Regions from separate parts of the Homo sapiens genome. Here regions 2 and 3 are each linked to region 1. The links come from fine-mapping of genetic effects on gene expression. A gene starts in region 1. Each other region holds a variant in brackets. All regions are shown on one strand. Distances are between the middles of the regions. Region 1 holds the start of CACNA1H (calcium voltage-gated channel subunit alpha1 H). Region 2 overlaps CACNA1H (calcium voltage-gated channel subunit alpha1 H). Region 3 overlaps CACNA1H (calcium voltage-gated channel subunit alpha1 H).

Evidence for each region. PIP is the estimated chance that this variant, and not a neighbour inherited with it, causes the effect.
Region 2: its variant is fine-mapped to the expression of CACNA1H in whole blood (TOPMed, PIP above 0.99). The same link has a PIP of 0.9 or more in blood mononuclear cells.
Region 3: its variant is fine-mapped to the expression of CACNA1H in whole blood (TOPMed, PIP above 0.99).

The regions. Positions count from the first base shown.
Region 1 is chr16:1,150,744-1,155,651 of GRCh38, forward strand. CACNA1H (calcium voltage-gated channel subunit alpha1 H) reads left to right here and starts at 2,363. Exons shown (of 35, transcript NM_021098.3): 1 at 2,363-2,727; 2 at 2,977-3,293. The coding sequence starts at 2,995. RefSeq lists enhancers at 1,262-1,842, 3,217-3,984.
Region 2 is chr16:1,206,505-1,210,572 of GRCh38, forward strand. CACNA1H (calcium voltage-gated channel subunit alpha1 H) reads left to right here. Exons shown (of 35, transcript NM_021098.3): 13 at 497-614; 14 at 771-926; 15 at 1,266-1,356; 16 at 1,509-1,717; 17 at 2,528-2,908; 18 at 3,531-3,631; 19 at 3,866-3,989. Among named protein-coding and RNA genes, the nearest start is that of TPSG1, 17 kb to the right of the region's middle. The variant G/A (reference allele first, on the strand shown) is at 1,808.
Region 3 is chr16:1,193,999-1,198,906 of GRCh38, forward strand. CACNA1H (calcium voltage-gated channel subunit alpha1 H) reads left to right here. Exons shown (of 35, transcript NM_021098.3): 3 at 974-1,085; 4 at 1,434-1,567; 5 at 1,928-2,025; 6 at 4,617-4,776. Among named protein-coding and RNA genes, the nearest start is that of TPSG1, 29 kb to the right of the region's middle. RefSeq lists enhancers at 4,021-4,580, 4,581-4,908. The variant C/A (reference allele first, on the strand shown) is at 2,749.

The DNA of each region.
Region 1 (4,908 bases):
TGCTTCCCAGGCGCCCTCTGGGTCTTCCCGCTCCCCGGCTCCCTCCGGCCTGCCACAGGGCCTTTGCATGGGCTGCCGTTGCTGCTGGAAAGAGCCTCTGCTCCTCTTCCGGCTGCCGGCTTGTCCTCACAGAGGCCCCGCCCTCGTCTATCTGGGCGCCCCCTGGCACTTAGTTTGGAAACTGTTTTCTCCTCCCCATAAGACGGAAGCTGCAGGCATGAGAACCGGGTCTGTCTGGTCACAGCCAAGGCACCTCCACCCTCCAACCGGGCCCCGCGCACTGTCCACCCTCAACTACCATTTGTCCAGCAAATCAACGACAGCCCCCAGCTAGAATCTGGAGCTTCAGTCTGTGGCTTTGCCTTAGCTTTAATTAATTAATTAATTAACTTATTATTTTTTTGAGGCAGAGTCCACTCTGTCACCCAGGCTGGAGTGCAGTGGCGTGATCTCGGCTCACTGCAACCTCTGCCTCCTGGGTTCAAGTGATTCTCCTCCCTCAGCATCCCGAGTAGCGGGGATTACAGGCATATGTCACCATGCCTGGCTAATTTTTGTATTTTAGTAGAGACGGGATTTCACCATGTTGGTCAGGCTGGTCTCGAACTCCTGACCTCAAGTGATCCACACACCTCGGCCTCCCAAAGTGCTGGGATTACAGGCGTGAGCCACTGCACCTGGCCCACCCTAACTTTTAACGAGCAGGGTGTTGATAAAAAGATCAGAGGTTCCAAGTGCCCTCTGGACCGGACTCCGATTCAGCGTTTGTGTCTCCCCACCTGCTCCAGCCTCCCTCCACGGATGTGTCCAAAGCACGGGGCTCTCCTAGGTCCTGCTCCTCTGTGGCTGGAACCTTAATTGGACCTTTGAAGGCCTAATTCACCAGCTGTGGCCCTCCATCGCTGAGTAGTTGCATTAAAATAGACTGAATGTTTTCCTTTTCTTGAAAGTTCCCGTATACAGGAGGAGGTGCTGCTGAAAGGACCTGTACCCCAGCCAGGCCCCCACACTCCTGCCTTCCAGTTCCTCGGCCCACCCCAGGTGCTGTGTGTCCTTCCGGGCCCCAGCTGGGCAGGGCCTCTTCTTCACCCTGCACGATGTGGCCCACCCGGGGGAGGTCCTGCTTCTCTGCTGCTCACCCGCAGGTGGGAAGCCACAGCCGCCCCACAGCCTCTCCGGGTCTGGGGTCTCAGGGTGCGCCCTGGAGCAGGGCCTCTTTGTCTGGAGGGAGAAGGGGTCTCTCCCACTACCAGGGGCCCCTTGTTGGCGGGCGTGCTGAGGTGCACACCTGGGAGCTCAAGCTCCCTGGTGCACAAAGCAGTGGTCCCAGAAGCAAAACCACCCTTCCAGCCTGGAGGGGTGCCCTGGGGGGAGTCAGGAGCCTGGGCACCTGCCCCCACCTGCTGGCACCTCGAGGTGCGGCCAGCCCTCCCTGGGACAAGGGCCTGGCCATCCCCAATGTCTGAAGGGTCCACCCCTTCCCGACCAAACCACTTGCTCTGAGGGTCCAGGGGAAGGCCCTTCTGCTGGCCTGGCTGAAGGAGCAGCTGCTGGCAGGGGGAAGGGGCCTGCACTTCTCCTCGGGGGCCCCTGGGTGAGTCTCGCTGAGGCAGCGGGGTTGGAGGATGCAGGAGCACCAGGCTGCCGTCCCCAGGGTCCCCCAGATCCCCACGCGGGAGGGGACCGGAGACGAGGACAAGTTCGCGGAAACTGCCCGTGCGTGTCGGGGAGAGATGCGAGTGCAGGAGCGCCCAGCCGTAAAGCACACCCCCGCCCGCCCCCGCGCCCCATCACACACGCGCGCGCGGGCACACCCGGGACACACACGCGGCGGGGAAGGGGCACGCAGCCTCTCGCCTTCCACGCCCGCCCGGTCCCCGCCCCTCCGCCGACCCGGGCCCGCGTCGTAGTGGGGGTGGGGGTGGGGGCGGCGGCGGCGCGCGCGGCAGCGCGAAGGGGGAGGGGGAGCCGGAGCGGGAGGGGGAGGGGCGCGGCATCGGCGGCTCGGCCGCCCCCGCAGTTGGGGGCAGGGAAGGACGTAGGTGCTCCCCCTCCCACCCCGCCGGAGCCTCCCGCGAGCGCCCCCTGGTGCACCCCACGCCCGGCATTGTTGGGGAGCACGAAAAGCGGGGAGCCCAGTGCGGGGGCGTGGAGGGGGCGCGGGCGGGGTCCAACTTCCCGCACCCGGGGGGGGGCGGGGCGCCGGGCGGCGACAGGGAGGGGTCGCTCGGGCGCGCGCGTCTCGGGCCGGGGGCGGATCCTCCCCAGTACCCCCCCGCCCGCCCCGCCCCCGGCCCCGCCCCGGCCACGCTGGCCCCGCCCCGGTCGCGCCGGCCCCGCCCCGCCCCGCCCCCCGCCGCTCAGCCCGAAGTTTCCTGCGCCGCGCGCGGACGGGCTCGAGGCTCGCTCGCTGCCTCACCGGTCCCCGGCCCGCGCCCCGCGCCCCGCGCCCCGCGCCCCGGCCTCACCCGTCCGCTCAGCGGCCTCCACGCCGCGCCGAGGCCGCCGCCGTCGCCTCCGCCGGGCGAGCCGGAGCCGGAGTCGAGCCGCGGCCGGGAGCCGGGCGGGCTGGGGACGCGGGCCGGGGGCGGAGGCGCTGGGGGCCGGGGCCGGGGCCGGGGGCGGAGGCGCTGGGGGCCGGGGCCGGGGCCGGGCGCCGAGCGGGGTCCGCGGTGACCGCGCCGCCCGGGCGATGCCCGCGGGGACGCCGCCGGCCAGCAGAGCGAGGTGAGACGCGGCGAGGACGCGCGCCCGGGACCCTCTTCAACTTGCGCGAAGCGGGCCGGGGAGCCCCTCGGGGTGGGGGTGGGGCCGCTGGAGGGAGGGAGGGGGCGGGCGGGGGCGGGGGGCGCGTTTGTCTCTAATAAGAAAAGACAAAGACATCCCGGCGGCCGCGGCTGTTCCCGCAGCTCCGCGCCGCGGGAGGCAGGGCGGGGGCGTCGCCACCGGCCCCGGGTCACCCCCTGTCCTCTGCAGGTGCTGCCGGCCGCCACCATGACCGAGGGCGCACGGGCCGCCGACGAGGTCCGGGTGCCCCTGGGCGCGCCGCCCCCTGGCCCTGCGGCGTTGGTGGGGGCGTCCCCGGAGAGCCCCGGGGCGCCGGGACGCGAGGCGGAGCGGGGGTCCGAGCTCGGCGTGTCACCCTCCGAGAGCCCGGCGGCCGAGCGCGGCGCGGAGCTGGGTGCCGACGAGGAGCAGCGCGTCCCGTACCCGGCCTTGGCGGCCACGGTCTTCTTCTGCCTCGGTCAGACCACGCGGCCGCGCAGCTGGTGCCTCCGGCTGGTCTGCAACCCATATCCTTCCCGGCCGGCGGGGGGCGGGGGGCGGGGGGCGTGGGGAGGGTGGGGGCCCGGGGCGCGGGACTCCCTCGGCATGCGCCCCCGCGCGCCCCTGTTGGTGGGACCTGGCGTGGGCCGGGCGCGCGGGGGTGCAGGGCAGGGGCTGGAGGACCGCGCTCTAATTTCTGAGAGTGGCGGGCTTGGGGGGCCACCGGGCGCCTCCGGACTCCCTTCCCCAGGGCCGGCTCCGGACGGAGAAGGTGGAAGCGAAGCGGTGAGGCCCCCGCGGGCTTGGAGGGGAGAGGAGTCGGGGAGGGAGGGAAGGTCCTAACTCCTCGCGGCCCCAAGGGTGTTGGCCAGGACGGGAATTTCCCCCTTGCCCACCCCTCACTGTCTGAAGGTCCTGCCCGAGGCAGGCCCCTCGCGGGGGAGGGGGAGGCCAGAGGAGCTGGAGTCAGGGGCGCAAAGTTTTCAGCCGGCGCCTGGTGGTTCCGAGTGCGTGGGGAGACCCGTGGGGCCTGTGAGCGCCGCCAGGGCCTTTTCCGTGGAGAGAGGCGGTGACGTTGGTTGTGAACTCGCTTTTTCTGGCTGAACTCGGTGGCGGGGCTGACTTAAGTCATGCGCAGCTGAAGGGTAGGGGGCAGGGAGGCAATTGGCACTGCCAAGGGGGAGTCTCATCTCCCCAGCCCCTTCCCTGGCTGGAGAGGAAGAGGCAGCCTCTTCTACTCTCGGCCAGAGCGGCACAGACTGCAGAGAAGGTTCCAGAACAGAGTTGGGTCAGGGCCAGGGGCATTTGTGGGATGTACACGGAGGTCCAGGGGGCCCCCCAGCAGGTGGCCTTGGGGGCGGGTCTCCGCGTGCCCTGAGAAGGGCCTTGCGTGGTGCCTGTGTCAGGGCCGGGTCTCCCCACCGGCCCTTCTGAGCCGGCAGCTGGGGTGGCCAGGCCGTGGCTTCTGCTCCGGGCCTGGGGACGGGTGGAGAGACCCTGCCCGCAGACGTCCCCCGTCGGAGGTGGGGAGACAGGCTGGCAGCAGGAGCGGCCTGTGTACACTTCCCTACCTTGTGTGTTTAACTGTACAAATATTAAACACGAAAGAGGAATCTGTACAAAAAAAGTCATAAAGCCCGTGTTTCTCCTTTCTCAAATCCAAACATCGAGTGAGTCAGACTCATCTCTGCTTGTAGAGGAAGAGGAGGCTGCTGTGGTCCCGGGGGCAGCCGGCCCCGGCCAGAGGGCTGCCTCGGAGCCCCACACCCGCTGCCCGGGCGGCCTAGGCCTCTGTAGCCTCAGGGTGGTGTCTGCGAGTAGGTGGGTGTCCCCGGGAGCCGAGGTGCAGGCCCGGCCTTGAAGAGCGGTTGTAGGTTTGTCTCCTCTCTAGAACCAAGGCGGGAGGTGGTCATGCCCCTTTGTTCTGGTAGGAGGTGACTGGGTGTGGGGTTAGTCCGGCGGTGCCAGCAGGCCATGGGGAAGGGTCTGGAAGGGACTGCATGGGTTGGAATGGGAGGCTGGCCCCGAGCCAAGGCCTGCGTTCCTTGTTTCCCAACGTGTGCAGACCGGAGAAGGGAAAGAGTTGAGCAAGCCTGGACTCTCTCCTCACAGCCCCGGGCCTGGCTGCCCCATCCCCAAGCA
Region 2 (4,068 bases), 55 kb after region 1:
GTCAGAGATGGGCCGCCAGGTGGACAAGCTGGGGATTTACTCAAGAGCAGAATACCGGGGGTGGGGGCAGGCACCAGGCTCCAACTGGGGTGTTCTGAGCGCCTGCTGTGTGCCCGTCTAGCCTGGAGCTCAGGGTCAGGGTCGGCTGGAGGCTAGGCAGCCAGGCAGGCCGGGCTTTCACAGTCCAGAGAGGCTGAATGAGGCAGGTGTCCCAGGTTCCAGTTGCCACCCAAATCCAGAGTGGCTTCCCTCTGTCTGTCCCGCCTCTGGTCTTGGTTCTCTCGCCTGTGGAATGGACACTACTGAGTTGTAGGGCAGGAAGTCCCTTTTAAGCTAGAGAGCTCGGGCGCCCAGGGAGGGTAGGAGGCCAGGAGAGCCAAGACGGGCAGAGCCAGTCCTGCCCCTCCCTCCTCCCACCCCCCTCCCGCTCCCCCACCTTCTTCCGCTCAGCACACCCCTGCCTCCACCCTCAACACGCCCCTGCCCCCACCCTCAGCATCCTGGGCATGCACCTTTTCGGCTGCAAGTTCAGCCTGAAGACAGACACCGGAGACACCGTGCCTGACAGGAAGAACTTCGACTCCCTGCTGTGGGCCATCGTCACCGTGTTCCAGGTAGTGCCCGGGGTCCCCGCAGCAGTGTTGGGTGCTGAGTGTGGTCCCCAGAGAGGTGGAGGTGCCGTCCTGCGCATCCATAGCTGCCTCTGCCCCAAGGACTTGCCGGCATTTCGGGGCTGGGGTGACCACCCCAGGCCCCCTGCTATCCCCCAGATCCTGACCCAGGAGGACTGGAACGTGGTCCTGTACAACGGCATGGCCTCCACCTCCTCCTGGGCCGCCCTCTACTTCGTGGCCCTCATGACCTTCGGCAACTATGTGCTCTTCAACCTGCTGGTGGCCATCCTCGTGGAGGGCTTCCAGGCGGAGGTGAGGGGGCAGGGAGAGGGGCTGCCAGGAGGAGGGCGATGAGAAGAGAGACGGGCTTCAGGTCGAGGGGAGGGGTGTGGGGGGCCTGCCAAGAGGTGAGGGATAGAGAAGGGAAGCTGGCTGCCATGAGGAGAGGGGAGGCCAGGAGCCCAGCGGAGTGGGCAGGGGTCGGTCGGGAGAGGCAGATTCCTCACCTACCTGCCCACCCTGGCAGTGACATCATCCTCTGGGCCCTTCTGTCCACACCCCACCTCCCAGGCCAGCCCAGACTTCTGTCCGGCATGAAGGGTCCCCACTCACGGGGCCCCTCATGCCTGCCTTGTGCTTTGTTGGGTTTAGGGCGATGCCAACAGATCCGACACGGACGAGGACAAGACGTCGGTCCACTTCGAGGAGGACTTCCACAAGCTCAGAGAACTCCAGACCACAGGTGCGTGTGGTCGGTGGGTGGTCCGGGTTCTGGCGGGTGGAGTACGCTGGGCTGGCCGGGCAGGGCCCCCATAAGGCAATCCCTAGGTTGGGGGATTCCTGGTCCTGGGAGCCTGGCAGCTCTAGGGGCCCATTCCTCCCTCTGTCCCGCAGAGCTGAAGATGTGTTCCCTGGCCGTGACCCCCAACGGGCACCTGGAGGGACGAGGCAGCCTGTCCCCTCCCCTCATCATGTGCACAGCTGCCACGCCCATGCCTACCCCCAAGAGCTCACCATTCCTGGATGCAGCCCCCAGCCTCCCAGACTCTCGGCGTGGCAGCAGCAGCTCCGGGGACCCGCCACTGGGAGACCAGAAGCCTCCGGTAGGGACCATCTCCTGCCCCAGCTCTCAGGCCCCTTCAGGTTTTCCCTGCCTGGCTCCTTATGGCCTTCCCTGAAGATGAGTGAGGGCC[G/A]CACCCCCCACACCCTTGAAGTCCCAGCCTGTGCAGAGACTGAGAAAGAGTGTTCTGGTTTCCGGAAATGGAAGCTGTGGCTGCTGTTGTGTGAGGCCGGTGTGAAGGGGCAGACGCGGAAGCTCTGTGCGCCCAACAGTCTAGCAGAGTGCACAGCGCACAGCACAGAAAGACCGAAGCAAGCAGGGGCAGAAGCGTGCCCGGCAAGCAGACGGCAGGCCAGGCGGGGGTTCCGCTGCCACCAGAAGCAGCCCGATTCCCTTTACGGCCAGGGCATCTCTCTGGGTCCAGGGGGACTGGAGGGGAGCAGTTTTGAAACGAACTCCAGGCAGTACCACCCACAACAGACACGGAGGATGGGAGTGAGCCAGACGCCCTAGCAGGGGAGGAAGCGGGGCAGCTGTGAGGCAGAGCCGCAGGCCCAGTGTGCTCCTGGGGACACGGGGGCCACCCACACTTTGTCTGGTCCTGGGCTGGTTCTGGCCCCTGACCCAGCAGAGCCCAGGGCATCACCCCCGCGAGGCGGACACCCTGACCCTCATGAGCTACGCCTGTGGCTGGCTCGGTGTCCCCCTAAAATCACAGCCTCCACCGTGCCTCCCTGGCGGGGCTATGCATTAAATGATCCACGTGTGGCTTGCACACAGTGGGTGCTCCGTAATGACAGCGGTCGGTGCTAATAGTGATGCCACCAGGTCACTGACTCCCGCCACCCCCCAGGCCAGCCTCCGAAGTTCTCCCTGTGCCCCCTGGGGCCCCAGTGGCGCCTGGAGCAGCCGGCGCTCCAGCTGGAGCAGCCTGGGCCGTGCCCCCAGCCTCAAGCGCCGCGGCCAGTGTGGGGAACGTGAGTCCCTGCTGTCTGGCGAGGGCAAGGGCAGCACCGACGACGAAGCTGAGGACGGCAGGGCCGCGCCCGGGCCCCGTGCCACCCCACTGCGGCGGGCCGAGTCCCTGGACCCACGGCCCCTGCGGCCGGCCGCCCTCCCGCCTACCAAGTGCCGCGATCGCGACGGGCAGGTGGTGGCCCTGCCCAGCGACTTCTTCCTGCGCATCGACAGCCACCGTGAGGATGCAGCCGAGCTTGACGACGACTCGGAGGACGTGAGTGCGTGGCCCTGGGCCCACCGCCGACTCGCCTTCGTCTGTCTGGGGCAGGTTCCCTCAAGTGGGGTTTGAGATGGGATTCAGGGCGTGTTGTTGACTGAGGGGATTCAGAAGGGGAGAGAAGCAGGCCAGGCCAGGGAGGAATCCAGCAGTGTTCAGGGATTCAGCCACAGATGATCCCAGAGTCCCCCCTCTGCCGTCTAGGGGCTGTGAGCTAAACGCTCCACGCACGGCCTGCATACGGGGGCTGGGCTCTGCGCCGTGGGTCAGCCACTGGCCGAGAGCTGCTGCCGAGGCAGGGCCAGGCATCCGCTAGGCTCTCAGGCTTCCGTGGGTCAAGGACCACTCCCAGAGTCAGGGACCCAAGAGCACCCGCTCACCTGGCCCCGTGGACTCCAGCACGGGTCACTCTGCCGTCACCAGCGTAGGGAAGGGGGAGGCTCCACGGTATGGGCCCCAGAGGCCAGAAAGCCAGAGCCCAAAGGCCAGCGGGTGAGGAGTGAGGATGGAGAAGGCTGAGAAGGTGCTGGGAGGGGTGGCCGAGCTGAGCACAGAGGGCCCTGATGGGGGGCCGGGCAGGCAGGCGCAGGCTCTGAGAAGCCGCCGCCTCATCCCACAGAGCTGCTGCCTCCGCCTGCATAAAGTGCTGGAGCCCTACAAGCCCCAGTGGTGCCGGAGCCGCGAGGCCTGGGCCCTCTACCTCTTCTCCCCACAGAACCGGTGAGGCGGCCGGGTCAGGAGGCTGCATGGCTAGTTCCACCCCACGGGACCCCCGCCCCCAGGTCCCTCCTGGGTGGGGCTAGCACATGGTGGATATTTCCGAGTGGGCACCCCTTCTCACACCGCAGGGACCGGGGCTGAAGTGGAGGCGTGGCCAGGGCTGTCCTGCAACCCCCATCCACTCTGCCATCCACGCCGCCCCGCCCCACCTCTCACCCGCCCCCGCCCACCCAGGTTCCGCGTCTCCTGCCAGAAGGTCATCACACACAAGATGTTTGATCACGTGGTCCTCGTCTTCATCTTCCTCAACTGCGTCACCATCGCCCTGGAGAGGCCTGACATTGATCCCGGCAGCACCGTGAGTCAGCCAACCCCATCGTCCCGGGCCACCACGACCCCCAGGGAGGGGTGGAGTGGACACAGCCCCCCACCGTCCT
Region 3 (4,908 bases), 43 kb after region 1:
CCCGTGTTGGGCAGGGGGCGCTGCTGCCACCATCATCCGGGTCCCAAGCAGGCCTGCCAGGGGTGAGGGGGAGCCGTGGGCGCTGAGGCCTGTGGTCTGCGCCAGGTGGGTGCTGGGAAGGGCGGCCCCCGAGAGTCAAGCACAGGCCCAAGTCCAGAGCCAGGGGTGGGGGCGGCCACCGGGCTGCCCCTGAATCAGCTGTGAGAGGATGCCCAGCTCTGTCTCCTCCTCGGTTCCCACGTGTTGGTGACGGCAGGGACTGTCAGAGCTGGTGCCTGACTTCCCAAGGCTGTTCGCTGACAAGTTGGTGCTTTCCAAATGCCGGCTTCTACCTTAAGGAAGGTCCCTCCTGGGTCCACAGTCAGCTGACGGATTGCCTCTCCCTCCTTCCTCTGGTTCCCTGGTCAGGGTGGGGCCGCGCAGCCCTGGGACAGGGGCCCTGGAAAGTCTGCCCCGAGTTGTGCCACCGTCCAGGCCTGGAGGGTGGGACGGGGAGTCCTGTCCGGTGGGTTGCATGGCGGTGCCCCGACATTCCCCCTGCCCTGGGGCCCTCCCAGTTGCACAGGGTGCCCTGCCTACAGCCCCCCAGCGCGGGAGCCCTATGCAACCTGGGCCCCATGTGGGCAGCTAGGCCCTGGGAGTCTGAGTGGCCCTCACTGGGGCCTCACTACCGATGCGGCCAGCCCACCGAGGGCTCCTGCACCCCGCTTTCCTGATGAGCCAACGCCGAGGGCCAGGGGGCCGGGCCTGGGACCCTCACGGAGCAGAGCCCGGCCAGGCGCAGGCCCCAGGCGCCACCTGGTGGCTGCTTTCAGGAGGGGCGGCCGTCGGTCCCGAGTCCCCCACCCCATCCTGGACACCCCCACGCGCGCACACCCGTGGCGGGGCTCCGGCTGACCGGGTGGGCATTTGGAGGGCCCCATGGGAGCGGGTCCCGGGCCGCGCCGGTGTGCTCCTTAACCCGCGGCGACACATGGTTCGAGCACGTGAGCATGCTGGTAATCATGCTCAACTGCGTGACCCTGGGCATGTTCCGGCCCTGTGAGGACGTTGAGTGCGGCTCCGAGCGCTGCAACATCCTGGAGGTGAGGGGCGTGGGTCGGGGTGGGGAAGGAGCGTGGGTCGCTACGAGGTTTATGGTTCAAGGCGGAGTGGGGCGGGGGCGGGGCAAGGTTCAAGGTGGGGCGTGGAGTGGGTCAGGGTCGGGGATCAGGGCGAGGTTCACGGCGGGGCGCGAGGTGGGGCTGGGGGTGGGGCAGGGCGAGAGGCGAGGTTCAAGGCGAGGCAGGGCTCAGTTCCTGGGGCTCAGGGCGGGGCAGGGGCGGGGCGAGGGGTGTGGCAAGACTGGGGGCCGGGCTCTTGCGGGGCTGGGGTTGGGGGTTGTGGGCTGAGCTGAGCTGTTCCACGGGCCCTCCTGATGCCTCCTCCCGCAGGCCTTTGACGCCTTCATTTTCGCCTTTTTTGCGGTGGAGATGGTCATCAAGATGGTGGCCTTGGGGCTGTTCGGGCAGAAGTGTTACCTGGGTGACACGTGGAACAGGCTGGATTTCTTCATCGTCGTGGCGGGGTAGGCCCCGCCTGGGAGAGGCCACAGCGCTGGCGAAGGGGCCCCGCCCACCCCACAGGGATCCCTGTGTCCCACCTGTAAAGAAAAATGGGAGGTGTGTTCTAGAGGGATCCAGGTAGAGCCAGGGACCCTGTCTGGGACTCCGGAGACCCTCCCTCCTGGGCACAGGTGAGGGAGGTGGCCTCCTGATGTGACCAAGCGTTGTGCTCCTGCTACCTCGGGGCCCTTCCTGGCCAGTACAAGGTCCTCCGGGTGCCGGGCTGGCCGGTTCTATGCCTGCCCACCCTACTTTGCACCCCAGCCCCACCCTGGACCACCTGGGCTCCTTGTTGAGCTGCTCCCCCTCGGCCCCGCCCCCAGCATGATGGAGTACTCGTTGGACGGACACAACGTGAGCCTCTCGGCTATCAGGACCGTGCGGGTGCTGCGGCCCCTCCGCGCCATCAACCGCGTGCCTAGTAAGTGACCGGCCCCGACTGGGCTTGAGATCAACAGGCTTGCGTGTCCGCCAGCCCTGCAGAGCTCTCAAAAGGGCCCCCAGGAGCACAGGACTGGGAAATGAAGGTTACCAGGCACTCCGGCCCCAGCCCAGACCCCAGCAGTGGGGTGGCCCCTGCCGCTATCCGTGGGCCTTGCATGTCAGGGGAGAATCAAGCTGCGGTGTGGTGGGCAGTCAGCATTCACAGGGTACCTGGCTCCCACACAGCCGAGTGACAGGGGCCACTCCGAACCTCCGGTTCCTTCTCTGCATGGCATCTGGGGCAAGGCTGGAGGCCGAGCAGATCCCTGGTGGCTTTGCTGTCTGGCGCATCCTGGTGTGGCTCGTGGTGGAGACACTCTTGTGGGTGTGGCTCAGCTCACCTGGGGGCTCTGTGAAGCCCCGCCTTCACACCCACACAAGTGAGGGGAGAGCCTGACACCTGTCCTGAGGACACCTCGCTCTCCCCACCCGCCACTGCTTCTGGCCCCTACTCTCCTGCCAGGATCCCCACCTAAGGAAAGGGGAAGTTGGCTGGCCAGGGCTGGGCCTCCGTGTCCCCTGCTGAGCAGCTGATTTTCTAGAAGGAAGGCTGGAAATCCTTCAGGATTTGGCCAGCAGGTGTGAGGAGGGGGCCTGGTGGAGAGGAGCTGCTGTGTGTCTGCTGTGCGCTGGGTGTGAGGGGAGGCGGAGGAAGAGCTTC[C/A]AGGAAGTCATATGCCTGCTTGTTTGGGAAACATCCTGTCAAATCCGGGCCACCCACCTGCATCAGGGGATGGGGTGGGATCGTTCTTTAAGCACTCAGGGCTACATTCAACTGCTCTGGTTCCTGGGGGTCGGCGCGGCCCCCACGAGGCCGTACCAGGCGCGAGTGCATACTGCGTGTAGATGTGGCCCCGTGTGTGCACGTGCGGGTGTAACACAGCCTTTCTGGCTGCCTGACCTGGGTCCTGGTGGCCTTGGCACTCAGGGCTTGACCTGCAGCAACCCCCCAAAGTCACAGACCCCCAAGGCTAGGCACTCCTTCCCATGGGGCCTCTGGCTTCCCGAAGGGCAGGTGGGTCATCCTCGTGCCGCTGGTCCCTGAGCCTGCCTTCCACCTGCCTGCCTTGGCTCTACTGTGTGGCTCAGATAGGGCTTGAATACTGTGTGACTCTGAGCAACTAGCTGAGCCTGAACCTCAGTTTCTCCTGGAATAGTGCAGTACAGGAGTAACCATGACCCCAAGGGTGGCTGAGCGTGCGGTGAGGGGACGCGTGTGTGGCTCTTGGCCCTTTGCCCGGCACCCACTGTACGTTCAGTCTGCACGCCGGCCTGGCCCCACCTGTTGAAGCGTGAAGCAACCCAGCACACACAGCCCCTTCCTTCCATGGATGTTTACTTTTCAGGTTAAATTGCCAGAGTGGCCCTAATTGTCGCCAGCAGCCTGGCCTCCTGGGGATCTGCTCCTGTCTCTAGGAGAGAACTAGGGAACTCTTCCAGACTGGATAATACGCTTCTCATAATGAGGACACGCTCAGGGCTGCATCCTGTTCTGTTGGCTAGGGGTCCACTCTGACCTCTGGGTCATCTGTGATCTTTGAGGCGGTTGCGGTCTGGCCAGGGCAGTGCTCACTGATTGTCTGCTCCGGTCGGCTCTTTTGACACTTCAGTGCTCCTCCTGGCTCTGACTCACCCTTGTGACCTGAGGGGCCCGTTTTGCCATTGATACCCCTGGGTGCTGGGTGAGAACTCAGCGTCCCCAGGTTCCTGGCCCAGGGCTTTACCTGCTGCCTTAGCCTGGCCCTTGATTAAATTTGAGGGAAAGGACGTCTTGGGGGAGCAGGCCCAGGATGGAGCGAGGGGCGCGTGGGGCTTGGCTGACCCACTTGCTGGATTAATCTGGAGTTCACGTAGCCCATAGCACCCAGGACCGATGGCTTCAGTGCTACCTCCTGAAAAGCCGCTGCCGGTCCTCCCCACCGCCTCCAGCAGCCTCTCTCTGAGATGGGGCTCTGTTCTGGCAGGATTCTCACTGGGAATCAGACAAAGTTTTCAGGATCCCAGACCTGCTGCAGAGACCCCCAGGAGGCAGCCCACCACCTGAGGTTCTGGGGCTCCCAAGGCTCCTGCTGCCTTGGTGGCAACTTCAGGGTGTCGCCAGACAAGCCTCGAGGGCCACTGGGCTCCGCCTGGTCATCCCGAGCCCGAGATGCCACGTGGTCAGACCTGCCGCAGCCAGTTCCCTGCCTCGGCCAGTCCCCTGCCTCCACTCCTGCCCCTCCACACCCCAGCCCTCCAAAAGCAGCAGACCTGCTGCCCTGGGATGGTTGGAGGTGGAGACCTGGCGCCCCGCTGGATGCACGTCAGACCCCAGGGTGTCAGTGTCCCTGGAGGCCGGTGGTGGTAGGAGGGGAGTCCCGATCACACTAGGGGTGCGGGAAAATCACCAGGGGGTGGCCCGAGTCAGTGTGCAGTGGGCGTGGACACCCACTGTGAACAGTGGACGGGGCTCGGGGGTCCCGGGAGGGGCTGCAGCCCCGAGGACACTCCTGCAGGGCTTAGCAGTGCCAATCCTGGCCCTGCTGCCCACAGGCATGCGGATCCTGGTCACTCTGCTGCTGGATACGCTGCCCATGCTCGGGAACGTCCTTCTGCTGTGCTTCTTCGTCTTCTTCATTTTCGGCATCGTTGGCGTCCAGCTCTGGGCTGGCCTCCTGCGGAACCGCTGCTTCCTGGACAGTGCCTTTGTCAGGTGCCCAGGCCCCACCCCCGTGAGGCCCCTGCCCAGATGGCCCTGCCCACCATGCAGATAACGCACCATGTGGCTCCACCGCCCCACGTGGCTCTGCCCACCGTGCAGTCACCCGCCCCGCCACTGCTGTCC